Linked DNA regions of Homo sapiens: all the other regions are reported to be linked to region 5. Evidence: microRNA targets listed by miRTarBase, many of them from high-throughput screens and not tested one by one. Region 5 holds a microRNA gene; each other region holds the end of a gene's coding sequence.

Region 1 (4,000 bases), not on the chromosome of region 5:
TAAACCAAGGATCATTTTTTATTGTCATTGGGATATTATGGTCAAAGCAGTTAGTATCTGGACATAATCTATAATGTCACATGGTTTTATTGCTAACTTGGGTTATTATCTAAATTTGCCTTAATAATCTATTTGTTGCTTTAAAGGAAACTTCTTAAGAACTACTATAAATTTATTGGATTCTAGAATCTAGGATTTAGGCTACTAATGCTGTAGGCATACTGGGTTTCTCTTATAATTTCTATTTCAGAAAGCTATGTTCAGCAATTGTATAGTTAGAGTTAGCCAAAATAAACAAAGTCCTGATGTATTTGACATGTGATATTACCAAATATCACACAGAAATGGAGACTGCATAATAAAGGCATGGCTGTAATGAAAGTGAAAATTCTACTTTTTAGGGCCATCACATTTATTTCACTAAGCTATGGTTAAATGACTTATCCAGGCACATCACCTCTATGGGTATTTGTACATTTGAAAATGAAAAAATATATATATAGTCTTAGGTTGTGTACAGTCATGCCCTGAGTGCTGAAATGTGGACACTGACCTATCCACAAGGAGCCCTCAGGCACATTAATACGTTGGCACATCATGTTTCCCAAAAGCACATGCATGTGTGTGTCTATTTCAACTCTTAACAATTGCTCAACACCACTCTAAACCATTTTCGCTTCCATAAAGCTAATTATCGCAGATCTTCCCAAAAGAGAAGTTCACATTTCCTTGATCACAGCTATACTCTCATTACCTAGGAAGAACCCTGGGACCTCTGGGGCTGTTTGCCCCCGCAGAGCACTGCTCATTCCTGCAGATTCATTTGGGACTTGGGTTTCAAGTTCAATGATTCTTCATTGAGATACAATGAACTTATCTAACTGTATTCTTGTTAGTACGGGCATCTAGACTGAAATGAACTAAACTGCATCATTTCATTTTATATTAGGAGAAATCTAATGTGCATTAATTAAGTAGTCAATCATGAATACCATTTATAATAGAAATAATTCCTTTAAGTATATTTTCTAAGTAATACATTTTATATCACATAAGGCTAATATACATGATGTAAAAGTCATCTATTGTACCAAGATGATTGAAATATTTTGCAGATAAACTTCTTGTGCTGCTATAATTATCCCAAAGCTGTTTAAAGAGGCTCCATGCTGCAGCATGAAAGTACATTAGAGAATACAGCACATTTCCTGAGTGAAGAACTGAAATTTCTCTTAAAATTTCAAGTGTGTGTTGAAACATTGTCATAGGGCATCACCTTGATACTGTGCTTTAATTCATGTTGCTTTGAGAAGCCAAGAATTTGGTGTAAACACATGTAGTTTGAAAGTTTCCACTGTTATTAAAATAGTATAATCCATTTTGTCACCAATTCCCTGTCCTAGGACAAGAAACGTGAATTTGTGTTCTGGCCATGAAATCTAGAATCAAAAAAAGAAAAAAAAAAAAAAAAAGAAAAACCTATAGATTTCCAACTTTAACAATATGACAACTTGGGTGTTTTGTTTTATTGTGAAAAAGATTTTAAACAATGTGTCAATACTGCCTATTGTCATATATTTTCTTTTCCTTCAAAGTCCTCCCAGCTGGCGTTCCAAATGACAACTTTGGTGAGGGAAAAAACAAATTCAGCAGCCAGGTGTCTGGCACCTAACACCAGACAAAGATGACCATCAATATTTAAACACCTAATCCTTTAAAGTGTGAATAATGTTTACATGAAAAGCTAGCAACAATACAGAATGTGGTTACCTTAATTTAATAATGAGCTGCATCTCTGAGTATGTTTTAGGAAGAATTTCTATTATCCAAGAATCCTAAAGGAAGATATTAACTGAGGTGAATGTGGGAATTTGTATAAGTCAATGCTTCTAAAGGAGAACTTCTTTCGGTAATCATTAAACAAAAAGTACACTTCTTGGCTAGGTGCAGTGGCTCATGCTTGTAATCTCAGCACTTTGGGAGGCCAAGGTGGGTGGATCACTTGAGGTCAGGAGCTCGAGACCACCCTGGCCAACATGGTGAAACCCCATCTGTACTAAAAATACAAAAATTAGCCGGACATGGTGGCACCCAACTGTAATCTCAATTACTTGGGAGGCTGAGGCACGAGAGTCGCATGAACCCAGGAGGCAGAGGTTGCAGCGGGCTGAGATCGCGCCACTGTACTCCAGCATGGGTGACAGAGAGAGACTCCATCTCAAAACAAACAAACAAAAAAACAAAGTACATTTTTTAACAGATATGTAAAAAATATACAAAACATTTTATATATATTATATAATACATAATATACATATTATATAATGTATATATTTTGTGTGTATGTATACAAAATAGCTGACAATTATTTCCCAATTTTTTAAGTTGTTCAATGGGTTTGGTTCTCAACACAACAGACAAAACAGGTACCCTAAGGATCACATCACATTTCTAAAAGCACAAAAACCTCCAACTGCAAACTTAGAGGCATCTCTAAACATCACTAAAATTTGCAGAGGCATGATACATTTGCTGACCATGTTCTAATAAAACCATTGTTTAAAGTAGTAGGTTCCTTTTGTCAGTCAAAATTTTACATGTGAAAATAAACTTTCTTCAAGTGTCATTTTGCTGTAAGGTTTTACAGGATAAGGCACTCTCTCAGTCTGCATGACCTTGCTTCCAGCCCCAGAGCTTACTGTGTACATGTTAAATTAGTTAGCATCATATCACTGCAACAAATAAAAAGAATAACCTCAAAAGAGAGTGCAAGGTATTGCTCTTCAATTTTTCAGTAAAGATAGAAATGAAGAGACAAAACTAATATAGCTGTATAAATTAGAATGGATAGCCATACATCTCCGAAATAATGAAAATACGTAAACTGATCAGACTTTTGATGTCAGATTTAGATGGTAGTAGACTAGCTATAACACTGACTTAAAATTCTGCTTTTGTAAGAAATTTATAAGAAGGAAGGTCAATAACTATATTTTCTTCTATTAAGACTAACCCTTCACTATTTGAATACTGAACTAAATGACAGCTTTACAAAACTATTTCAAGTAATATTCATTATCACAGTGAAAATATGAGACCAATGTTAGAGTGAATGATTTGAAAATTCCTTTGATGAAAAAGGCAAGGGTACTAAATCAAAACATATACAAAATGCTTCAACGCATTTCTTTATGTGATATGAATAGAAAGATTATCCATACAAAGTTAGAAAAATTAAGATAAATTATATATTAGTACACCTTCCAACCACATTTTATATAAAAATTCAGAAGTGTACTATTATTTCAATCTACACCATAAAAATGCCTGGACTTAGCAGATAATCTTCTATCTGTGATGTATTTTCTCAGTAGAAGGTTTATTTGTTGCAGTCACTTTTTAAGAGTTTAATTTTCATTGTTAACCTTACTGAATCATCAGTAAACCCAGCTGATTGGGACCCACTGTGGTTCCATTCTCAGTTTCTCTATGGCAGTTTGCAGTTTTTCAAAGGCTTTGTCTAGATTATCATTTATGATGATCAAATCAAAATAGTGGTTGTATGCTCTCTGAATCCGTGCACTTTCATCCACTGTTTTCTTCAAGTCAGAGTCCTGTTGAAGAGTTTTAAAAGGAAATGTTTGTATTACAATGCATATTTACTTGCTCAAACTCCAACTAGAAGTGAATATAATAAATAGGTTAGATATATTTCTGGTAATTCTGGTATTAATCTTCAAAATCTAATCCATATAGTGTTAAAGACAACACTGCCATCTGTTCATGTCTTATTCTTTCCAACAACACTCATGTTTACATTTATGAGTATTCTGCATCTTTTGCCTCACTTATATTAGGATAAAATTCCTAATTAAAAGACTGCTGAAAATAATCTTGGAATGAATCTACAGTAACAAAACAATTACTGCAGGTGACTGGTTTCCAGCTCCACTATATCATCCTTTTCGAAAGATTTTTATCTCATGGCCCATGTACAACA
Region 2 (4,087 bases), not on the chromosome of region 5:
CTCAATCTCTGCAGCCCATGTTGACCTTATCCGACTTTGGCCTTCTTACATATACACTTTTTGTCTTATTCAAAGTTATCCTGGCTCAGAGTATTCTCTAGTTGTCACATATGTGCTTTTTTTCACTAATAGGAGCAGTAAGCTCCTTGAAAGTAAGAGCTTTTTTCTCATTATATTTCTACCTGACAAGCACAGTGTTAGGCATGTAATAGATGTTCAATAAATTAAAAACTTAATGAATTGAATTTTTTAATGTTCAATTTTAACTTTTTAACGTTAAACCATCAATTCAACCTATCTATTTTGGAATATATTTTTAGTATATTTTTGACTAAAATGTTAGATTTTTTTTTCTCTCCAGGTCTGTAAACTGCAGCAAAAAGTTCAAAACTCAAAGATGAGTGAAGCTTCAGGTATTCAGCAAGAAGACAGCTACCCTAAAGGATCAAAGAACATAAAAAATAGCCCCAGAAAATGTTTGACTGACACTAACCTTTTTCAGAAAAACAGCAGCTTTCATCCAATACGAGTTCATAATCTTCAAATGAAATTGAGAAGAGATGATATCATGTGGGAACAGTAACAAAACAGCAAAACTGTCACCTTAATGAACTTTGTCAGTGAGACCTTGAATTGTCTAAAGTGGTTTTAATTTAATATAACTTTGTGACATTTTGAATCATGTTTCTAGTTTCTATAAAACATGAAGTTGCAGTATTTAAAAATTAATGCCTAATGACCTGGTGGGTTCCAAATAATAAATTAATTGCTTTTTTATTTTTCTTATTGATTGAAGCCCGTAACCTCATCTTGTCTTAGAAACATTGTTGGCTTTGCAGATATCTTAAGCTAAATTTAAGAAATTGTACTAGATTGACAATATTCAAAATTGAGTTAAATCCAAGCTACAAGTACCATTCATTCCACTTTTCATTTAGTAGGTTTGGAACCTTAAAAACCAATGTTCAATGAACAGAGTTCAGAAAGATCATTTAGCTTTCCTGGTGCCTTCTTTCTATTTTGTTTTAGAGCTGTGAAATGTTTTTCTCTTTTGGAAAAGGAAAAACTTAATAGTTACACAGTTTTGTGAAGAAGCCTTTAATCCAAGTTTTATGAGACAGTAGGAACCTATAGCTACTTAATTTTTAGGAGACAGTAATTCAGTTGCAGAAGCTTTCCTCTGCTATTCCCATTCTCTTTTACAAAACTAGTTTTTTTTAAAAAATCAATGATCAATTTTATCTTACTACTTTATAACTTTTGCTGACTTTTATTCTTTGCATTGTATGTAATGTCCATCAGTATAAATTGAGACTGTGAATTTCTAGGACCCACAAAAGTGGTATTTTTTTTTTGTACAAGAAAGTATAGAGGAAGAGGAAGCTGGGCATTAAATTACCTCATCCAGCAGAAATTCACGGTAGTATGGTATATTTTTATTTTTTATATTTTAAAATCAATAATGTCAAATGTCATTGTGTATGCATGCTTTATAATAAATTTACACTTGATCATTTTTCTGGAAGCCTATGGGAACTAGTACAACTCTTCTGAACTCTTGGTTTCTCACTCAAATCCTCTGAGGCAACTGGGGAACTAGAGTCATGAACTGAATTAGAAATAGAGGACAGAGAGAAAAGATATAATAGAATGGAGGAGCTCAAATATAGGGTAGCAGTTTAAGAGATGGTGATTCCTAAGGGACAGAGTTGGAAGTACATATTTACTGAATTCTTTGAACCCACAGCTGATGGAATGTTCAAGCTATAGATGTGAAAGAATTTTTAGGTCAGGATCTTGGGAAGCTAAGGAGAGCAATTTTTAAAAGACAGTTTTTCTGTTTTCCTAGGAAATTCCCAAGAAGCTTGTGTAGGAAAAAGTTGGTAATTATGGATCTTTTGGGGAGGAAGAGAACTATAATTCATTCTAATGGTGAGGAGAGATACCATGTTAGAATACCTTCCATACCTGGAAGTGGGGAAGTGACTGAAGATGGGCACATTGATGCTTGAAATTGTCCTTGAAAGTAGTTAATGGCAGAGATCAAAATTTCCTCCTGTTGTAAATAGTGCATGTGCCCTTTGCCAGCTTTCACTCCCACTCATTCACACCCTTAGCTCCTCAGCCCTGGAGATGTTCCATAGGGTGTTTGATCTAAACTCAGTTGCATCACCTTACCTGTTTTTCTACTTTGCCTTTCCTCCTTGAGGATATGAGTTTTATAGCTTAAGCTTAGCTTTTTGCTAAACTTTTTAGCTTTCTGCTATCCACCAGGACCATAATGCAGACCTATAGTTCTGTGCCTTTGTTTTCTATACATTTAGGAAGGTGGCTGAATATATTTAGTTATTAATAATTCATTACTTGTGAAAAGGTATTGCTTTAAAAATTATCATTAAAAATTTAAAAACCGTCCAGGCGCGGTGGCTCACACCTATAATCCCAGCACTTTGGGAGGCCGAGGCAGGCAGATCACGAGGTCAGGAGATTGAGACCATCCTGGCCAACATGTGAAACCCTGTCTCTACTAAATTACAAAAATTAGCCGGGTGTGGTGGCGCATGCCTGTAATCCCAGCTACTTGGGAGACTGAGGCAGGGGAATCGCTTGAACCTGGGAGATGGAGGTTGCAGTGAGCTGAGATCTCACCACTGTACTCCAGCCTGGTGACACAGCAAGACTCTGTCTCAAAAAAAAAAAAAAAAATTAAAACCATTTTAGGAACATGGAATATTTCAACTGAGAATTTTCTTAAAAATTAGTCCAGTGTAGTAGAAAAAACCACAACTTCAGAGCTAGGAAACTTGGTTTCAAATTCTGGGACTCTACCATTTAATAGCTTGGACAAGTCAGATAACTTTCTGGAGCCTCAGTTTCTCATCTGTAAAGTGAGGATTATACTAATATCTCCCTCACAGGACTATACTAATTTGTTGTGAGGAGTTAATGAAATAACATGGGAAAGCACCCAGCAGAAGAGTTGACACTTATTAAACACTCAATAAATATTTTTTGAATCTGAGTGGCAAAAAAAAAAAAAAAATGTAGAACACATGTTTGCATGGGTTGAAGCCTAAAAGCAAACACCTAAATATATTATTGGTAAAAGTGGGAATATTCTCACTTATTTTGGTTTTTATCTCTTTCTGTGTGCCTGAAGGGAAATGGCTTTGTCATCTTTCCTAGCCCAGGTTTCTAATGGGAGGGGGTAAAGAACACAGTCCTGTCATTGTGCTGAAACATGTAACCACACACAGCAAATAGGTTTGGAGTATGGTGTGGTTGTTGAGGTGACATTTATTATTGAGAGACAATGAAGAATGGTGTCTTGTTGCTTCATCACAGCTACTGAACTCACAGACTGCCTGCTTGCCAGAGCCTTTGACTCCTCAGGGGGTGGAGCAAAAGATTTCTTTCCTGGATGGAGCAGTCAGTCTATGGTCAGTGTAAGAGTTGCTGTAGCAACCTCACAGCTGTGCTCTGTCTAGCAGAAACTTGGTATGATTTCACGGATTTTGTTCACTTAAGTAAAAAACAGATTTGTTTGGTTTTTATGTAATTAGAAATTGAAATAATGGAATTGGAATTTTCTAGCCAAGGCAGGTCTCAATTTTGATGAAACTGAAGCCAGAAAGTTCCAGTGTTTGAAGCAGCAGGTATTGTGACTATATTCTGATACTGGAAATGGGAGTTGGAATCCTGAATTAACTGTACTTGGGTGGATCATTGGCAACCCAGCCATTTTTATTAGGTTGTAGATAAAGACAGGAGGGTCAGAGGGAAATGTTCAGTTTTCAACAATGTAAGATTAAAGTGGGAGATACTTAGTACATAGTAAGTTAACTGGCTGGGATAATGTAGATAATGTACTTGAAAATTATTTTTGAGCTTTTTTGGTAGCTTTCTTACTTTATTCCTTTTTTTCTATACCTGCCAGTAGATGTGAGAGCTTTTCTTACTTTAAAAGTGTAATTTTAACTATAAATGTATATTCTTTTTTTTTTTTTTTTGGTGGGCATGGAGTCTCGCTGTGTCACCCAGGCTAGAGTGCAGTGGCACGATCTCAGCTCACTGCAACCTCCACCTC
Region 3 (4,000 bases), not on the chromosome of region 5:
GGCTGAGACAGGAGGATTGCTTGAACCCAGAAGGCGGAGGTTGCAGTGAGCCGAGATCGCACCACTGCCCATTTTTACTTCTGTATGGTTGGTAGTAACGTTCCCTCGTTCATTCCTGATCTTAGTAATTTGAGTCTTTTTCTCTTCATCAGTTTAGCCAAAGGTTAATTTTGTTGATCTTCACGAAGAGTCAACTTTTGGTTTTGTTGCTATTCTCAATTATTTATTATTATTATTTTTGGATGGAGTCTCGCTCTGTCACCCAGGCTGGAGTGCAGTGGCTCACTGCAACCTCCGCCTCCTGGGTTCAAGAGATTCTCCTGCCTCAGCCTCCCAAGTAGCTAGGAATACAGGCACATGCCACCACACCCAACTAACTTTTGTATTTTTTAGTAGAGACAAGGTGTCGCCATGTTGGCCAGACTGGTCTCGAGCTCCTGACCTCAGGTGATCCACCGGCCTCGGCCTCCCAAGTGCTGGGATTACAGGTGTGAGCTGCCACACCCAGCCCTCAATTGTTTTTCTCTTCTGTATTTCGTATTTCTGCTAAAATCTTTATTACCTTTCTTCTGCTTCTTTTGTGGTTTACTTTGCCCTTCTTTTTCTAATTTCTTAAGGCTGAAGTTTAGCTTATTAATTTGAAACCTTCTTTAAATGCAGGCATTTAAAGCTATAAAGTTCTATCTCAACACAGCTCCACTGCATCCCATATGCTATTGTATATCAACTTTTTCTTTCCATTCACCCCCAAGTATTTTCTAATTTCCCTGTGATTTCATCTTTGATCCACTGGTTACTTAGGAGTACATTGTTTAACTTCCACCTATTAGTAAATTATACCACTTTCCTTCTATTGATTTATAGTTTCATTCCATTGTGGTAAGAGAACACATTTTGTATGATTTCAGTATTTTTAAGTTTATTGAGATGTTTTGTGGTCTGAAATTTTGCAAAGAATGTTTCATGTGCACTTGAGAAAAATATGCATTCTGCTGTTCAGTGGAGTGTTCTGTATATATGTCTGTTAAATCCAATTGGTCTACAGAGTGGTTCAAGTTCCTTACTGATCTTCTGTCATGGTGTCCTAGCCATTGGAAGTGGGGTACTGAAATCTACAATGATTACTGTTGAATTGTCTATTTCTCTCCACTTAAATTTTGCTTTATGTATTTTGGGGCTCTGTTAGAAATATGTGTGTACACGTATATACACACGTATATAATTGGTACGTATTCTTGATGGGTTGAGTGTTTTATTGTATGTTGTTTCTGGCAAAAAATAATTTTCTTGAAGTCTATTTTGTTGGATATTATTCATATAACCACTCTAGCTCTCTTTCGGTTATTGTTTGCATGGAGTATCTTTTTCCATCCTTTTACTTTCAATCTACTTGTGTGTCTGAATCTAAAGTAACTCTTATGTAGACATAAAGGGACTGAATTTTCAAATCTGTTCTGCCAATCTAATTTAAATATCATCTTTCTTTGAGACACCTTCAAAAAGCCCCAGCGCACTCAATGTGTACTTTAAAAATCACTGATGTAGGCTGCGCGCAGTGGCTCACGCCTGTAATCCCAGCACTTTGGGAGGCTGAAGTGAGAGGATCACTTGAGGTCAGGTGTTTGAGACCAACCTGGCCAACATGATGAAAATGCCATCTCTACTAAAAATAGAAAATTAGCCAGGCATGGTGGCATGTGCTTGTAATCCCAGCTACTCGGGAGGCTGAGGAAGGAAAATCGCTTGAACCCAGGAAGTGGAGGCTGAAGTGAGCCAAGATCATGCCACTGCACTCCAGTCTGGGCAATAGAGAGAGACTAAGTCTAAAAAAATAAAAAAATTCACTGATGTAATACATGCTGGAAATTATTTATGAAAGAACCCAATATTCTTTCAGAATTTTGTCAGTAACTTACCATGTGACCTAGAACCAGTTTCTTTTTCTATTAAAGATGAAAACTGTTACCACACATGATGCCATCATAGTAAGTATTTTTAAAAGTGAGACTCAGAGTTGGCGTAACACCCACAGTATTAGTATGACATGAACTGTGGAGATATATCAGTAGCAATGGCACCAACTCACCTGTAGTGAGTTGACTACAGGTGAGTTGCAAAACCAAAAAACCCACCATCACTAACACGAACAAACAAAAAAACAGAATTTACTAGGCATGTCCATGTTTTATTTTCTTTAGGTGTTTTTCTGGAAAATTACATTTTCAAGGAATCAGCCCTTACAAACAGAGCTAATCTTTCAAAAAATAAAACCCAGTATCTAGATTCTCAAAACTTACAAAACCAACTGGAAATGTCTGGTTGTCATGCTCAATTCAGTTTCACATCACAAGTAATCATCTATAACTATTTCAGTAGGCAAATTCCAATTCTAAATATTACTAACGATTACCATTGTTATTCTCAACTGTGTTGACAATTGTCTTATTGCTGAATTGTTCATAATACATCTTCTTTGGCAACTTTATTAACACCATGGGACAACTAAAGGTCTGGATTAACTTAGTATTTCAAAACTTCATTATAATTATTTAAAAGTAAATGCTAGACTTAAATTATTTAAATTTAAATGCTAGATTTAAATTATTTAATTTTAATAAAATTTAAATTTAAATGCTAGAATAGGAAAGCCTCCAAACATGCCTAATATAACAAAAACAAAAATTGCTAAATAATCACTACTAAAAGCATTTCCATTGTATGTACAAGTATATAACTCAACTTTACCAACAAAAATATTATAATTTAGCTCCAATTCTCTATCAGACCTACTGTGATTAAAAAAAAACAAAAAATAAATGGAGAAAGCAACATCTGGGCACCTGTCAAATTTTTATGGAAGGTTGTTTTATATAAATTTTAAATGGCTTAAAATCAGCCAGAATGCGAATTTTTCACTATAATACTTTATAAACTTGTACTTTCTTTTTTCTTTCTTTCTTTTTTTGAGATGGAGTCTTGCTCTGTTACCCAGGCTGGAGTGCAGTGGCGCAATCTCGGCTCACTGCAACCTCTGCCTCCCAGGTTCAAGCGAGTCTCCTGCCTCAGCCTCCCAAGTAGCTGGGATTACAGGCACATACCACCATATCCAGCTAATTTTTGTATTTCTAGTAGAGACGAGGTTTCGCCACGTTGGTCAGGCTGGTCTTGATCTCTTGACCTCGTGATCTGCCTACCTCGGCCTCCCAAAGTGCTGGGATTACAGGCGTGAGCCACCACGCCCAGCCTAAACTTGTACTTAAATTATATATTGATAGCTTATTCATTTTTAATTCTTGTTCCATGGAATAAGCCTATTTTTGAGGCTTGGCACGATATTAACAAGAAATTTAAACAGGACGCTCATGTCCAGAAGTTTAACTAAAAAATCTTTTCTATATATAATATAACTACCAACTTAAATTACAAATTGCTTCCACTAAAAATTATCACTCCAAACTTCAGAAAAAGTAAATTAAAATAGGTTATGGCAAAAGGTACACTCTGAAGCATGTTCACATTACAAAGATAAATGATAAAGGTTAACCAGCAAAAATTCAAAAAGGCATATATGCAAACATCTGTATGCAAACTTTCATGAATAAGATATAAGAAATGATTCATTTGGCTAATTTTATGTACAGCTTGTATACAATTTAAAACAAGTACAACTGAATATGTTTCTATGTAAAAGCCACAATAAAGTTAAATGAAATACTAAATAAGTCTTACAAATTGGTCTCTTAGGAGTTCTCAAAAGAATTAGTAACTGAGTAACGTTAGATTCTAAGAAATGCCCTCTTCTTGATCTATCATTTCTGTTTTAACTGAAAACACATCTGCCAACATATGTTTTGGAATTTCTGACCCTCTGACTTTCAAGGCATAACAAGCATTCTCCACTTTGGCCAAACTTTGTTTCAAGGTATACAGCTTCTTAGAAACCTCGTAAGGTCCAGTGTTGCCAATGAATGAAAACCCATCATAAACCTGACGTAAAAAC
Region 4 (4,094 bases), not on the chromosome of region 5:
AGGGGCACGATCTCAGCTCAATGCAACCTCCACCTCCCAGTTCAAGCAATCTTCCTGCCTCAGCCTCCGAGTAGCTGGGATTACAGGCACGCACCACCACACCCAGTTAATTTTTTTGTATTCTTAGTAGAGATGGGGTTTCATCATGATGGCCAGGATGGTCTCAATCTCTTGACCTCGACCTCGTGATCCGCCTGCCTTGGCCTCCCAAAGTGCTGAGAATTACAGGCATGAGCCACCACGCCTGGCCTAGAATAATTCTTTCTAGTTGTCTGTTCAGCTGCTCTCTGGGTAAAAATTAAAAATTCTGTCATAGATTGTCTTGAATGTGTTGGCTGACATTAGAGAAATGGAAATCATAACTACAATGAGATACCACCTCATGCCCAATAGTAATTTGAACAACAATTTGACAATTCTTTATAATATTAAAGTTACATGATCCAGCAATTCCACTCCTAGAATTTAAAACCTGTCGGCCAGGCGCAATGGCTAACGCCTGTAATCCCAGCACTTTGGGAGGCCGAGGCAGGCAGATCACGAGGTCAGGAGATCGAGACCATCCCGGTTAACACGGTGAAACCCCGTCTCTATTAAAAATACAAAAAATTAGCCGGGCGTGGTTGCAGGCGCCTGTAGTCCCAGCTACTTGGGAGGCTGAGGCAGGAGAATGGCCTGAACCCAGGAGGAGGAGCTTGCAGTGAGCTGGGATCGCACCACTGCACTCCAGCCTGGGCGACAGAGCAAGACTCCATCTCAAAAAAGAAAAAAAGAAAATATATATATATATATATATTTAAAACCTGTGCACATAAAAACCTCTTCTATAATGTTCATAACATTATTTTTAACAGCCCAAAAGCGAAAATAATCCAAATATCAACTGATGTATGGGTAAATACAATGGAATATTATTCAGCCATAAAATAAAATGATGTACTGATACATGCTGTAACATGGATGAACCCTGAAAACATGCTATATCAAAGAAGCCAGTTCCAAAGGATCATACATTGTATGAACTTTTATGAAATGTCCAGAACAGGGAAACCCATAGAGACAGAAAGTAGACTGGTGATTCCCAAAGACTGGAGGAGAGAAATGGATTGACTGCTAATGGGAGGTTCTTTTGGGGGTGATGAAAAATGCTATAAAAAATTGATTTGGTGATGGTTGTACAACTTTGTGGATATTCTGAAAACCACTAAACTGTACACTTTTAAAAGGTGAATTTTATGGTATGTGAATTATATCTCAATTTTATTAAAAAACGGGAAACAAAAAAAAATGGGAAACAAAAGTGTTGGCTGTGTTGGGATGGCCATTTAGTAGTAACATGTTAGGCACATCTCCCCTTCAATATAACCTCCCTGACCCCAGCCCCCAAAGTCTTAAGAATTTGGCCTCCATAATCTTCTTAATATTTATTTCTTACAATTTTTTTTTTTTTACTATAAGCATGTATTACTCATAATAATGGGAGGTAGATCCAAATTTTCAAGGAATAATCTGAACTTTTATAACAGAAACTGTACTTAAGAACACTAATAGAGGTTGGCTGACACCCTGAAAAACTGGTCTGTTACGTTTAACTGTGGGCCAGTCAGCTTCAAACTCAGGAAAACCTCTCACCTCAGTTGCAGGGGAAATGGGCAACAATAATAGTAGCTACTGCTGACAGGCTGGGCCCTGTGCTTAACTCCATCTATCATCTCCACCAACTATCCCACATGGCATGTGCTACCACTATTTTACAGATCAGACCGTTTACATAACTGAGACCGAGGATGCACATACGCCCCTCCCCTGAAACGCAAGTCTCACTGAAGGTAGACTAAGATGCCACCTTGGTGTAAATAACAAATTACAATAAACTCTGACTCAGATACTGAAGAACAGTCTAAAAATATTCATTGATAAAAGGTAGGTGTTCAAAGATGACCCAACTTCTATTTTCGCCTTCAATAATTGTTACACAGTTAAAATACAGTGACAAGCTGCTTCCACATGGCTATAGGTAGGGATTTGTTATCCAAATGCAAATCTATCTAGGTCTGAATTTCTAAAAGTAGAATCTTTTTTTTTTTTTTGAGGTGGAGTTTTGCTCTGTCACCCAGGCTGAAGTGCAGTGGTGTGATTTCAGCTCACTGCAACCTCCCAGGTTCAAGAGATTCTCCTGCCTCAGCCTCCCAAGTAGCTGGGATTACAGGTGCCCGCCACCATGCCCGGTTAGTTTTTGTATTTTTAGTAGAGATGGGGTTTCACATGTTGGCCAGGCTGGTCTTGAACTCCTGACCTCAAGTGATTCGCCTGCCTCAGCCTCCCAAAATGCTGGGATTACAGGCGTGAGCTGCCACGCCTGATTTAAAAGTAGAGTCTTTAAATAACCTTCCCAATACTTCTTTCTTGAGACAGGGTCTCGCTCTGTCACTCAGGCTACAGTGCAGTGGTGCAATCTCAGTTTCTCACCATAACCTCCAGCTCTCAGGCCCAAGCAATTCTCCCACCTCAGCCTCCCAAGCAACTGGGACTACAGGGCCAAGTCACCAAGCACAGCTAGTTGCACTTTTTTTTTTTTTTTTTTTTTGGTAGAGATGGGGTTTCACCATGTTGGCCAGGCTGGTCTTGGACTCCTGACCTCAAGTGATCCGCCTGCCGCAGCCTCCCAAAGTGCCAGGATTACAGGCATGAGCCACCGGGCCCAGCCTACTTCTTGAATTAAAAAACAAAAAACAAACAAAAAACCCAGGCAGATAATGAAATCCTGCATACACTCAAGTCTGCATGAAGCATAAGGCCAAACTGGAAAGTGGGCATTTGAACAACCCTCTTCCTGCTCCCTTCCCCTAACTAAGATGGGCTTCTGGGCCTATCAACCATTCTTTGGTAAAGAGCAGCAATTCCCCATAGGCTCTTTAACAACAGCATTGGTGTTTGAGGTTGCATCTTTAAAACATCTATTTCAGGATTTGGAAGCTTCTGGAACCATAACTTTAACCCAGCCTTCCATAACAGTCTTTTTACTTTCTATTACAGAACATGACACTGCAATAATAGCAATGAACCGCTTCAGCTTTTTCACTTCTGCAGAAGCTAAAACAACTTCTCCAATATATAAAGGGGCTGGAAAGCTAATTTCCTGGGAAAGAAATACACAGCCTGGCCCTGGCATTTTAGTTCCTAGGAGAGCTGAGATAAGTCCGTTGATCAAAACTCCATGTACAATTGTATTTCCAAACTTGGTGTGTTTTGCAAAGTCTTCATTCAAATGCAAAGGATTGACATCCCCTGTTAATTCTGAGAAGGTAGCCACATCAGTCTGTGTGAAGGCCCTCCTAAGTTCAGCGCGGTCTCCAACTTTGATGTGCATATGCTGAAAGTGCTGCAGGGTCAGCACTGGCAGGTTCAGACAGACTGTCCTCCGAAGCCCACCCCACCAAAGGTGATGGCTGGAAATTAGTGGGAACATCTTCAGCACCCTCAAATTTCATCAAGAGCTTTTAGCCTGCTTCAGTCTTCAAACATGCAGGCACCAAAAAATAAATATGAGAGTGGATGAACGTTTCCAAAATGGAAGACTATTCATTCAATCCAATACTAGTTCCCTACTATTACCAGATAATGCAAGAAGAAATGGAGAAACCTAGAAGAGAAAGAAAAAGGTTAAGGCATTGGGAGAAACCACACTGAAGCACAGGGCAATGGGGAAACATGCCCAGTTTTACAGGATAAACAAAGCTGATGCAGGAGCATTTTACAGAGCATCCTGAGAGGAAGCCTTCGATAACAAGTGGTCACATCTCAAAAAGAGCGTACCAATATATAACACACAAGGCATTAAGTGTTAAATAAAAAAAGTAAGCCTTAACCACAGGGTTGCAAGTTTTATCCCAAAACATCTCCCATAGATTTTAAAATCTAAGTGCTCTGTCTCACATTTTTGGAAACAATCAAGTCCTTTATTTTCCCCTACTTAGATCATTTTAACCATATTACATTTATGCAAGCACAAAAATGAGTTGTGTATATTAAGAAGCAGTTGACCCATCACTCAGTCTTGTTTGGAATATGTGAGGGAATAGTCTTTACCTGAA
Region 5 (4,096 bases):
TGCACCTCCAGAAGTTGTAGGGTGAGCCAGGGGCGGTGTGGGGGTGTGAGGCTGGTTTTCGAGCTGATAGTTGTGGGGTGTTGAGGGGTGCGGGGATGTGTGTGTGTGGGGGGCGTGCGCTCACACTCCAGTTCTTGTTGTTTGGGTGTGTAATGAGGGCTGAGTTGTGCAGCAAGTATGGCTGAGAGTTTGTGTGTGTGTGTGTGTGTGTGTGTGGTGTGTACGTGCGCCTGTGTGGTCCAGCCTCGAGGTGTGTGTGTTCGGGGGGAGCACAGTTGGGTGTTGAAGGAGAGCGCCCCTCACCCCCCACTTCCCAGCTGCCTCTCTCATCCCATTCACAGAACATGGCTTTCAGGACCCTCCTGGTCTCCTCCTCCCGTCGCCATGGCTGCGAGGAGGGGGTGGGAGGAGACAGTTGGGGCCAGCCCCCTGCCCCTGCTGCTCCAGCTAACCCCCCACCTGCCCTTTCTCTCCCTTTCACAGGCTGGGCCCCATCCCCTGCTGCTCTGGGGGCAGGGGCCGGAAGATGGTGGCCAATGAGGAGGGGGAGAGGAGAGAACTTGAGCCGGGGCCTCCCCTCCCCCATTTCCTCCTCGGTCTCTACACTCGCTTCTGGAAGGAGCTGGGGGCTGGCTCCTGGGCCCAAGGTGGGGGAGGGGTCCTGCTGGCTGGTGAGTCGCTGGGCCTGCTCCTCAGGAATGAGTTGGGTGTGTGAGAGCTGAGGGGCTCTTGGCCCTTTCTCCCTGCACTCCCTAAGGAGAGACCTGGAAACTTCTTGGGGAAGAATCTTCCCCTGGCCTCCCTGAAGCTTGCTGTGCAGCCTTATCTTTGCCCCTCTGCCCCCTGTTGGTGTGATCCAGTTCCCAGCTGGGCCTGGTTTGCCCAACCCCAGAGCAGAGAGGTCACTGACCCTCGAGGGGTCTTGGTTTCCGCCCATTAAAACTGTAGGGCAGGGCCCCATGTTTGCAGATTACGGGAACAAACTCTGCCGGGGAGAGCGGGAGGGAACGTCTCCTGCTTCCTGAGGGGGTGGGACGAGGCTAGAGGGAAGCCCAGAGGAAGAGCTCCCAACTGGAATTCTGTCCTCTATTCCTTACGGTGGCTGTGGATTAGGGAAGAAGGCATCTCCCCTTCGTTGATCGGGGCACTGGAGGAATCACCCTCCAGCCTCTGTTTCTCTGGGCTGCCCAAAGTTCACTGGGTCAGAACTGGAGCTGGGCTCCGGGGCTGTGGCCCTAGCTGGAATGTGCCACAATAGAGCCTGCCTGGGTCTGAGCCTCCAGATATCCAGGTGTCCTTCCAGGGCAGCTTTCTGGCTTTGGGTGTTAATCTTCCGGGGACTGTTTGTCCTGTATTTAAGCCCCCTTAGGGTTGGATAGGATGGGGAAGTGCTAGGATGAGCTTGAAGACTCCCCAACCAAGGGTCCCTGGATAAGACAGGAAATAACTCAGATGTGAATCCCACTGCCAGTGAAAGCCTATCCCTAACTCTCAGTAACTGTGAGCGAATCACCCTCACCATTTTAATGCTGAATCTGCAAAGTGCTTTCAGGACCTCCAAAAGGAGATGCAGGGGTGGGGCTTCACCAGCAGCTTTCACCTCCCCGCCTGGAAGCTTCTCTCTACTGCGTGGGGAGCTGTGACTACAGGCTCCCACCTCTCTGGTCCTGGAAGGTCATCTGAGAGTGTTGCCTTGAGGCCTAGAGCTCTGCTTTATCTAAATTTAAAAGGAGATGGAAACTTAGAGAAGAGTAGAGGGTTCTGTAGTCTTGGGCAGCAAGCTCCTCTCTAGAAGGTAAGCTAGCGGAAATGCAAATCCAGATGAACACAGCCTCATACGAGTGACCTCCAGACTTTGGGGATTGCTAATAGCCGTTTTCTTTGAGGACTGAGCATCAAGCCCGAAGTATCCCTGCAGCTGCTTTAGTGGGTCCTGTCCTCCCATGCCAAAACCTCCAAGAAAAAGGTGGTCTCTGTGCTGGGGGTCAGGGGGTTGGTGAAGAAGGCGGCAAAAGGAAGAGTGGTGAAAAAATAGAATGAACACTAAGAATGGAATAAAAGGGAAAAAAGCTGTATTGAAGCAAAGAAGGGGCAGAGGGAGCCCGTGAGCTGAGTGGGCCAGGGACTGGGAGAAGGAGTGAGGAGGCAGGGCCGGCATGCCTCTGCTGCTGGCCAGAGCTCTTTTCACATTGTGCTACTGTCTGCACCTGTCACTAGCAGTGCAATGTTAAAAGGGCATTGGCCGTGTAGTGCTACCCAGCGCTGGCTGCCTCCTCAGCATTGCAATTCCTCTCCCATCTGGGCACCAGTCAGCTACCCTGGTGGGAATCTGGGTAGCCTCACTTGTTAGTTATACTAATAGCTCTCATTTATGGAACTACTTCTGTATGCAGTGCTTGTGATAGACACTGCCTCCGTTACTGTGAAACCTAATAACTTCTGGGAGGTAACAGCCCCATTTTATGGATGAAAAACTGAGGGTCAGAAAGGTTTAAACAGTTTGGCTAAGATTGTGTAGCTCTTAGGTTGCAAAGCCTAGATACAACCCTGTGTTAAGTCTTGACAGCTCACTCATCTTTTTGTAGACCCATCTGGAGAGATCTGAATAGGTTCTTCAAACTGGGAGATTTCCTGAGCTGAGGGGTGGAAGGTTTTGATGCCATCTGCTGGTTGTATGAGGATATCTTCCAAAGCCTCAAACCTTTAAGGACCAGAAGTGGTGGCAACTCCTTAGGCTAAGAAGGATAAGCATTCCCAGACTCAGCCCGGAATGGAGAGTGAGTGGAAAAAGATTAGGAGAATCACTATTAGGTACAGAGTAGGCCTCCTTGAGAAAAAAAGGAATGCACCAGAAAGGAAAGGGGGTTAACTCGAGAGGATTGCTCCCCAAAGAAAAGGACCTGTGTGCTGCTGGCATCCCATACCTACAGCTCCTTCCCTGGCTCATGAGGCATGGAAAGACCTCACTCCTTCCCTGAATCCACTTACCTTTCTCAGCACCACTCCCTCTTGGTCACGGGGTGTTTGATGGTAATGCTGCTTGAGGGCACACCTGTCTGGGCATCCAAGATTTGGACAGCGTTGCCCATGACTTAATCTTAAAGATTAATAGGATCCCTTGAATCAACCCACAGAATGATTCTCCCAGGACCAATTACAAGGAAATTGAGGCCGGGTGCGGTGGCTCACGCCTGTAATCCCAACACTTTGGGAGGCCGAGGCGGGCGGATCACCTGAGGTCAGGGGTTCAAGACCAGCCTGGCCAACATGGTGAAACCTCGTCTCTACTAAAAATACAAAAATTAGCCAGGCGTGGTAATGCACGCCTGTAGTCTCAGCTACTTGGGTGGCTGAGGCAGGAGACTCTTGAATGAATCTTGGAGGCAGAAGTTGAAGTGAGCCGAGATTGCGCCACTGCACTCCAGCCTGGGCAACAGAGCGAGACTCCATCTCAAAAAAAAAAAAAAAGAAAGAAAAATTTGAGAGCAATGACTCAGCCATTTACTTCTCTGTCTCCCACAGTGCCTAGTAGGCTTAATTAAAACTTGTTAAAATAAATTGAATGAGAGGAATATTTGGGGAGCTTCTTTAAGAAGGCAGCTAGTATTCCTGGTCTTTTGGCTAAGATCAAGTGAAGAAGGCAGCTAGTTTGTGCCTGGTTTTCAACAGCAGAGTTTGGGACTTGAGAAATCTTCCCTAAACTTTGGTGCAAGAAATGGGTCCAAGAGGAATAGGGTTTTGAGGTCCTCTGCTGGACCCTGAGAGGGATCTTGGCATCATGAGGCATGTAGAAACTGAAAGATGGGTCAGACTCCCCTGAGGCCTTAGTTGAGGGATGTTGGACATCTCTCCATGGCTTGCCTTTTTCCCTTGCCCTTTTACTTCTGTGCCTTCCAGTTCTAGTCCTCCTTTCTCCTGCCCAGACAGCCTCTCCATTCTGATCACAACAACAGTATTTGAGATAGTACAGTTAGCTTTATTTCCCTTTTTTTTTTTTTTTTAAGACAGAATCTCACTGTCGCCCAGGCTGGAGTGCAGTGGCGCGATCTCGGCCCACTGCAACCTCTGCCTACCAGGTTCAAGTGATTCTCCTGCC
Region 6 (4,096 bases), not on the chromosome of region 5:
GCACCTGGGCCTCTTAAAGGCAAACCACATAAAAGGTTACAGGGTGCTTCTCTTAAGGATTCTAGGACCATAGGTGTGTTTGGGAATGACCAATGGAAAAATCCAGTTAGATGATTTACACAGATGTTCTCTATGTAGATTTGAATTTAAATTAAAATGCCAGCTATGCATTTGGGAACCAGCTTTTAGTTAAATTCTCTAGCACTTTTAGAATTATTTGATTTTATTAAAAAAGAATCATTGTCTACAAACTGTTTTCTAACAATGCAAATACAGTAAGCAAGTCATCTGCAATATCAAAATATTGTTTGTAAATCACTGATGGCACCAACGATTTGAGGAATTTCCAATAGGACACATATTGAGAAAAAGCAACAGATTATAGGCATTAACCAAATTTTAAGATCAGAAAATTATAAAAATCATTAAGTTTAAATTATCCAATTTTCAATAGCTTAAATCCAATCATCAGGAATTCAGAAGCACCCAATATGTTTGAAGTTGCACAAATGCATATGGATGATAGGAAAGTAATCCCCATGCAATATCTTAAGTGTTGCTATCAGATATATTTAAGTGCTACTTTACAGATTAAGCTGGGTAAAATCAAAATATATTTTACTTCCCATTAGATTTTAAAACAATCACAATAATTTATCAACAGTTGCCATTTCACAGCAATTAGAAAAGAGGAGTTGATACAAGTTGAACAGAAAGGTATCTTTTCTTCTTTTAGGAAATAAACATATATATATATATGTATATATATTTCACATACACACATAACATTATCTTTAAAATTCCAAGTGGTTACTTTTGTATTATAAAAAAATTATCTCCCTATGGTCAAAATACTGAAAAAGCGCAAAGGCTGAAAAAAGAAAACCACATTTGCCACTTTAAAAAAATACATTATTGTCTCAGTGGTTCTATTTATTTAATTGATTATAAAGTATTATGACTCCTAGTACTGTACTGGACCTGATGGAATTAAATACACCCCTTTCTCAGTCTCCAGAAAGGATACTCCTAACCCACCCTAAAATATGATAAAATAAATGCCCCTATTCTGAACTGTTAAACTGGGAAATAAACCATGCCCACCTGGAAACAATATAAGTCATAAAAGTTTATGAATCTGTGGGAGAGACTACACGAATCAGAAAGCAATTCTTTGGATATAAGTTAGGAGCTTTTAGAAGTATATAAACTCTTTTAGGCATCTAGAGTAGAGACACAAAGAGGATTTCTCCATAAATAATGATTTGGCCAGTGCAATGGTTGGTTGCCCATGGTCTGCATCTGGGATGTCATCTGTTTTTGTAAATAAAGTTTTATTGGAACATAACTGTGCTCATTTGTTTACATAATGTCTATTGCTGCTTTTGTGGTAAAATGGCAGGGTTGACTAGCTGTGACAGAGACCGTATGGGCTGCAAAGCCTAAAATATTTACTCTCTGGCCCTTCCACAGAAAGTTTACTGACCTCCTGATCTAGTTCACCAAGTACTGCTCTAGTTACCTAAAAGAGTTAATGCACCTCAAGAAGATTTGAGCATGTGGTGCAAGAATAACTTGCATACTGGGTTTGTTCATTAGCATGTAATGTCAAACCACACCTTGAAGTGGTGCTTTATTTTGGGCGAGGAAATAATTTGTATACACTTTCAGGAAATACCTATAAAAGTCAATTTGAAAAAAGGAAAGAAAAAAGCCAAATTTAAAAAAAGCCTGCCTATGTTCTTTTAATATTTTTATATTATTGTGAGGAAAGGGTGCTAAGATGATTGTTCTGTCATTCTTTTAGTTTTTCTTTAGTTTATAAATGTTTCTTTTGTTTATAAATGTTTTCTCATAAGAAGTGTTCCCTCATGCCCTCCCATAACCTTTAAGGCAATCTACCTAAAATGCTTACAGTATGGTGAAGCCTTATTCAGAAATATTTACTTAAACCATAGGTATAGAATAGCTACCATTTCTGAATAATAATGTAAAATGAAAACAGAAACAGCTTTCAAATTTGAAGAGAAAAGTTTCCCTGACCCTAGTCAGCTAACAAAGCCTATTTCTAACAGTGAACTTCCTGAACTCAAGCAGCTGCTCATGAAGCTTTAAGAGTTCACAGGCATTTCATATTTCAATAGTTGTTGAAACATGGAAGATAAAACACTGAGAGGATATTTATCAAACACAAATTTATATCAAGATTAACTTTTTCAACCAGCTTACAAGCAGACTTTTCCCTTTCTTTGTTAAAAAATGAATGGTATGAAACTATATGTTAAAGATGTTTCTATAATACCTTACATTTACATAGCGCTTTACAATTTTCAAAGTGCTTTCACATGCCATCTCATTTAATCCTCACAACAGCCCTGTGAGGTAGGTACAGCAGGTATTATTATCCTCATTTCAAGATGAGGAAATTGAGGCAAAGAGAGGTTAAGTGACTTGCCCAAGATCACACAGCTGTAAGTGCTAGAGCTAGGACCTGAAATCAAGTTTTTTGACTCCTTGTCCAGTACTCATTCCACTGTAATTACTGCCTCAAGTTATGAATAATGAACTGTGTATCAAAATTGAAAGCTTACTGAAGTTCATTTCAGTGATGTCTTAACAGTAAAGTTAAATGAGAAATACAAGAACAGTAGGTCTGATGGTTTTACTTGACATAAAATTGGTGCAAAACCACTTTTGTCTAATTACTTGTAACCTTTTGGTCCAAATACATAAAATATGCAATATTTACAGCATTTTCCTTGTTTTGTAAATGCAATGCTTTAAAACACATTATAAAGCACCTTAGTAAAAATAGTCTACAGGTAAAAGTACAGAAGAAGTAGGAAAATCCTACCCATACCACAGCTCACTAATGGAGTCATAATACGGAGTCACCGATATCTCAGTTTACAGCTTTACAAATAACCCATGGAGAAACAAATACTAAACTTACTTTTTTGATATTAATGTGTGAAAATCTTAACTAAAACTTCAGACAATCTCAATATTCTTTGAAGTATCTTCCCAGTATTAGATATTGAGGAGGCAGGAATGAGAAATACTGCTTTGATGCTTTATCTTTTTACCATATTAGTCATGATTTAAATTGATTTTTAACACTAATCACCATTTAAAAAATTAAAACCACCTACATAAATATGGGCAAATCCAACTACAGCAGAAACATTTCTTAGCAAATATGATTAAACATTCCAATAAATTTCATGAGACATGACTCACAAAAACAAAGTACACACTGCCAAACAGTTATTAACACAATTCAGTAGAGGTGTATAACCCAAACCCTCAGTGAAGGCAGAAGAGGCAAATGGACTCATCTTAATTCATGGTTAGTTGAAAAAATGCTTTATCAAAAACAAGAGTATCAGAACCTTTTCTGAAATTGTATTTAGCCTTTTGATTAGACCTGCCATAAGTTCATTTTAGGTGATGTATATTTTCTCCCAGGCAGGAGGTTATAACTTTCACCAACGTTTAGCCAGGAAAAATAAAAATGCCTGAAACTTAGAACACTGACAATGCCAGCCAGTATCTACTTCCTTGACGTTACTGTCTGTTTCCTAATTTGGCTCAATACAAATTGTCATATACACCTACTGTCAGCAATCCAGACTGTGGAGCTGAGAACAAAGGTGAAGACAGGGTCAAATTTTAGTTCAAGAATCCAATAGTCACACCTTATACTCAGTTCGACTTAGGGTAAATCTTTTCATAGAAAAAGTTTTGTGCGAGGATGTAGAGGTCTCCATCTTTTTCTCGAACGGCATGGGCTCTGATGAATTGGAACTGCTCTAGTGCAAATTCATAGAACTCATTCTCCATTTTCCAAATATCAGATTGCTGTAGTTTTGCAATGGTTTGTTTAGTGGGGAGTTTCTTCTCTGTGGTTTTCCTAAGATGAGATTTCTTTCCTACTTACAAAGGGGGAAAAAAAGGAAAGGTAAATAATTCTTGGAGAACACACAAAAGATCAATGCCTCTTTATTTGAAGAGGTGGTTAATATGACACATTAAGAACAGGTAACATAATTGTCTTATATAATTCAGGTAAAAACGGAGCCTTGATCAAACTAGA
Region 7 (4,096 bases), not on the chromosome of region 5:
ATAGTGTATGGACGTAGGAAGGGATGAAACAGAGAAGTTGCATAACCCAGCCTCTTTGATCATGTTAGAAATCACATCCTCAGGTCTTTCCAGCGGAAGCTCCTTCATGGTCAAGCTCTAAGACACAACGAGCTCTGTTATTCAAGAAATCAATTCCAGTGGATTTCCAGTTCCAATTCCTGAGAACTAGGGTAAGGGGGAGAGCTAATGGTTGCTTCCTAAGGCCTTCTGGGTTTATTAGTTCCATTTCAGGACATGACAAGAAAATGTACTCCCGGCTTTACAGTTAAAACCAGTTTTCTGGGAACATTTGTCAAACACAGGGAAAGGCTGTCCTTTTAAGTTAGTGTTTACTGCATTTCACCTAAGACTAAATGGACAAATGAATTATAAATTCATTTTTTAGGAGGCATAATAAACTTTGGAAATATTTTTTCTTAATTAGAGGGAAGAAATGAGCAAAAGAGAACCCGAGGCTCTAGCTAGAAGCCCGTGTTTCTCTGCCCTAATTGCATCAAACAATGCCTTAATAATCTGTGTCTTCATGTGGGAGGCATCTACTCTGTCCTCTACTTTTTCACTTTTATGCAAACTCAGGGGAAACTCAGGGGAAAAAATGATTCTATGAAATTATAATTAGAGCCATATTTCTAGATTTTAATTTTCAACATTGGCATTTATTAATTTCCTGCAGCTGCTGTAACAAGTTACCACAAACTGGTAAAAATGGCTTAAAAGAACAGAAATTTATTTTCCTACAGTTCAGGCCGGAAATCCCAAATCAAAGCATCAGTGGGGTTGGTTCCTCTTGGAGGCTCCGAGGGAGTTGTTCCATCTCCTCTCCCAGCTTCGGATGGTTGGCAGCAATCCTCAGTATTCCTTAGCTCGCAGACATCATTCCAATCTATCCCTCCATCATCTCACGGCATTCTCTCTCTGTTCACATTTCCTTTTTTTTTTTTTTTAACAAAAAAACCTAGTTATTGGGGCCCACTGTAATCCAGTATGATCTAATTCTATCTTGACTGCATCTAAAAAGACCCTATTTCCAAATAAGGTCACATGTACAGTACTGGGGGTTTGAACGTGAACGTATCTTTCTTGGGAGATGCGATTCAAGCCACAAGAGCATTTACTTCTACTGTAAGAAGAAAACAAATCGAGTTTAAATCCTATGTATCTTTTGTTTCCAAACCATGCTGCAGAAACTAAAACTGAACTGCACTATATATATTTCTAGGTGTCTGAAGTTTTGAAAGAGCTTCCCAAAACTTTAAGGTAGATCCCTAGTTTCATCATAAATGTAACTAAAAGAATTGGCCTAAATGATTTCAAAGATCTCCACCAGCTCCTGGTTAAAAACTGCAAAGCTATGATGTTGTGGGCTTGTAAAAAAAACAAAATACACACACACACACACACACACACACACACACACACACACACAAACAAAACTGCAAAGCACAGTTGGTGTGCACCTGTAATCCCAGCTACTTGGGAAGCTGAGGTGAAAGGGTCACTTGGGCTCAGGAATGAGGCCCCGACTAAAATTCGCTGCAAAAGCCCAAAATCTAGTTAGCATAAATTCCTCAGACATGTAATTAAATGACACTAATGCTTTAAGCTTACTGTCAAGGTTAAGTCTATTCAGTGAAGACAATGAAATGAATTTTCATCATGTTTTGAGTCTATAAACAAGTACATACTCAGACATGTCTAATACAATTCCAGTGTTTTATAAACTGGCAGAATTGATGTGTTTTATAACAATTCAGTATCCAAAAGCCTGAGGAGACTTGGACCATTTTCCTAAGGGATGAAGCGGGAAACGTTTATTAACCAGAGCCAGATTGAGACCTTAATAATAAAAAGATATGGGTCCAACCCATAGGTCACTCCAAATGGCATCAACACTAAACCATAAATAAGCGTTAACAAAGTGCAAAGTTCTAAATTTTCGCATAGCTACTTCAAGTCCTCTCTTTTTTAAACATTATTCTTATGTGGCTCACCCGTCACTAATGCTCAGTGTGCCTCTTGGGTGGCTCAGCAGTGGGAAGTCCACTTTCAGCCTAACTACTCCTAACAATGAAGCTGTTCTCCAGAGAGCAAGAATAGCCAGCCACATGCCCCCTTCTCTGCTTTTTCATCCCCCTCCATCTGATTCAATGGCGGTGTCCCTGGCTGCAGGCTTCAGTATGCTTCAAGCCAAGCGCAGCTCAGCTGCCAGTCTGAGAACAACCAGGACCAGCAAGCCACAGAGGGACACGCTGGTGCAGAATGCCTGGCCAAGAGGCATGAGTTTTACTTACAGCCTCCCATTCTAATTTAATGCAGCTCAACAGGCTGAGAATGGATAATCTCACTGCAGTATTCCATAATAGGCTTGGATTAAAACCAGGGACAATGGGCAGCAATAGGCCATAGGTTAAGCAGCAGCAACTAGTCACCACTGGACTGTCTTCTTCTCCCCTTCCCCATATCCCACATTCTCCTAAACATGATGTACGTGTAGCAACAGTCTTTTAAAGTCAGATGGTCAGACTAATTATTTTTACAATTTAAGTGTAAGTGATGTACATGAATGGACTCTGTGAATCGGAAAACTTACGTAACAGCAGAGAATACGTATGTTATATGGAACAACCTGAGTTGAAGGTACAATTTTTTTTCCAGCTCTTTTATTCCTTTAACTGCTTAACAAAAGAAAGAGTCTCCAAAGTTTAAAAAACCTTTGAAAAATATACAGCTTGATATTATTTACATAAAATATGAATCCAGGTTCCAATATCAAACAAACATTGCTATGTCAGAAACACAGTGGAAGGCAGGAACGTAACTCACTGCCTTTTAGATGCAAAGACTAATAGACACGTTCTCCTATCTCGACTATCTTTGTTACCTGTTATCCTCAAACATAAATTATTAGGCACCTGAGAGGTTGGAAGACTACCGAAAATGAACTTCATACCTTCTGTATGATTATTATCTTAAAAAGTTACCGCATTTTTAATCTCTTTTATAACTTTACTTCATCTACAACTAACTTCACTTTCATTATCCCAAATGATCAGGTATTAATTACATGAACTGTTAATGTATACACAGACCTAAAAATCAAACAAAAATGTATTGCCCAGTTGTGTAGGATATATATTTGAACCCCATGACATTTCCTAGTGCTTTGTGAGCAATCCAAATTTCACTTAAAAGAGAGGTGTCAATTCTGCCCATGCTCTGGACTATGTTTTTAAAAAACATACAAAAAAGACTGACAATAATTGATCTCTTATAAATTAATCAAGAAACCTAAGATTAAAAATTCTAAATTACAATTTTATTTGTATTTAAAAATACATTGGAAATTCTGCATATTCCCATGATCAACCTTATTTTCAATGCACATTACTTAAATTTTGATGACACAGTTGATTCTGACAAGTCCTTTTTCAAGCTGAACACCAAAATAGGGAAACTCCTGTACATTTCCATGGGCCCTGTTCCCATTGATGTATACTGCTTCCTTACTAACAGTGAGGGATGACTTTCATCAGTCTTTTATCACCTGAACAGTCTTCCGGCCATAATGATAGTAACTATAAGCTGATGCAGCTGTGGTGAAAGCTGTAAAACACCTTTTATGGAAGAAAAGAAATAAAATGTAGTTGTCAAGTCTAAAAAATAGTAGCAACGGGAATCATAATGAATACATGCAATGAATTTAAAATGTAAAAATGAATTTAAAAAGTAAAAAGGGCTCTGTGGTGTAATTTTTCTTAACTACAAGAGTCTAAATACACTGCTTTTCTTTAAGAGTTCATTTTAATTAGTAACGTCAAACAAAATTATTCTAGATAATGAGCCCTACAAATTACTACTACTAGCAACTGTCATTTTTTACTCGGGCATCCTCTAGGTGTCTTACATTCTCATTTTATTCTTACAACGAACTCATCCTCCAGAAGGACTTCATCCTCCAGAAGGACTCATCCTCCAGAAGGACTCATCCTCCAAAGGACTTCTCCAGAAGGGGGAAATGGAAGACCCGGGTAACTTGCTCAGGGCTTATCACAGAACTATGTTTGAGCCTGACTTC

What was found. The annotated mature microRNA hsa-miR-130a-5p reads GCUCUUUUCACAUUGUGCUACU and lies in region 5 at 2,178-2,199, shown strand. An mRNA with a match to its seed (bases 2 to 7 or 8) in the 3' UTR can be bound and repressed. Matches are read on the target gene's strand: a 7mer-m8 pairs with bases 2 to 8, a 7mer-A1 pairs with bases 2 to 7 and ends in A, and an 8mer does both.
Region 1: the mRNA of PALS2 is a reported target of hsa-miR-130a-5p. The part of its 3' UTR that is shown has no 7-base or 8-base seed match.
Region 2: the mRNA of CEP57L1 is a reported target of hsa-miR-130a-5p. The part of its 3' UTR that is shown has no 7-base or 8-base seed match.
Region 3: the mRNA of TSNAX is a reported target of hsa-miR-130a-5p. The part of its 3' UTR that is shown has no 7-base or 8-base seed match.
Region 4: miRTarBase lists RPP14 as a target of hsa-miR-130a-5p. The part of its 3' UTR that is shown has no 7-base or 8-base seed match.
Region 6: miRTarBase lists HS2ST1 as a target of hsa-miR-130a-5p. Seed matches in the 3' UTR shown: 7mer-m8 at 1,211-1,217.
Region 7: the mRNA of CRLS1 is a reported target of hsa-miR-130a-5p. Seed matches in the 3' UTR shown: 8mer at 3,014-3,021, 7mer-m8 at 2,677-2,683 and 8mer at 1,979-1,986.

What each region holds. Positions count from the first base shown.
Region 1 is chr7:24,687,052-24,691,051 of GRCh38, reverse strand. PALS2 (protein associated with LIN7 2, MAGUK p55 family member) reads right to left here. Exons shown (of 12, transcript NM_001303037.2): 12 at 1-3,614. The coding sequence ends at 3,438. Among named protein-coding and RNA genes, the nearest start is that of GSDME, 68 kb to the left of the region's middle.
Region 2 is chr6:109,162,388-109,166,474 of GRCh38, forward strand. CEP57L1 (centrosomal protein 57 like 1) reads left to right here. Exons shown (of 11, transcript NM_001271852.3): 11 at 362-4,087. The coding sequence ends at 583. It also overlaps the pseudogene CCDC162P. Among named protein-coding and RNA genes, the nearest start is that of CEP57L1, 69 kb to the left of the region's middle.
Region 3 is chr1:231,564,689-231,568,688 of GRCh38, reverse strand. TSNAX (translin associated factor X) reads right to left here. Exons shown (of 6, transcript NM_005999.3): 6 at 2,165-4,000. The coding sequence ends at 3,784. All of the region lies in intron 4 of TSNAX-DISC1 (TSNAX-DISC1 readthrough (NMD candidate)), which reads right to left. Among named protein-coding and RNA genes, the nearest start is that of TSNAX, 38 kb to the right of the region's middle.
Region 4 is chr3:58,316,989-58,321,082 of GRCh38, reverse strand. RPP14 (ribonuclease P/MRP subunit p14) reads right to left here. Exons shown (of 6, transcript NM_007042.6): 5 at 4,090-4,094; 6 at 890-3,643. The coding sequence ends at 3,587. HTD2 (hydroxyacyl-thioester dehydratase type 2) reads right to left here. Exons shown (of 5, transcript NM_001348712.2): 4 at 4,090-4,094; 5 at 890-3,643. The coding sequence starts at 3,469. The coding sequence ends at 2,963. Among named protein-coding and RNA genes, the nearest start is that of HTD2, 13 kb to the right of the region's middle.
Region 5 is chr11:57,639,035-57,643,130 of GRCh38, forward strand. It overlaps MIR130A (microRNA 130a), which reads left to right and starts at 2,164; the gene lies at 2,164-2,252. All of the region lies in intron 1 of MIR130AHG (MIR130A host gene), which reads left to right. RefSeq lists an enhancer at 382-961.
Region 6 is chr1:87,104,306-87,108,401 of GRCh38, reverse strand. It overlaps HS2ST1 (heparan sulfate 2-O-sulfotransferase 1), which reads right to left. Exons shown (of 7, transcript NM_012262.4): 7 at 1-3,932. The coding sequence ends at 3,706. Among named protein-coding and RNA genes, the nearest start is that of LINC01140, 23 kb to the left of the region's middle.
Region 7 is chr20:6,036,613-6,040,708 of GRCh38, reverse strand. It overlaps CRLS1 (cardiolipin synthase 1), which reads right to left. Exons shown (of 7, transcript NM_019095.6): 7 at 656-3,635. The coding sequence ends at 3,551. LRRN4 (leucine rich repeat neuronal 4) reads left to right here. Exons shown (of 5, transcript NM_152611.5): 5 at 1-163. Among named protein-coding and RNA genes, the nearest start is that of LRRN4, 15 kb to the left of the region's middle.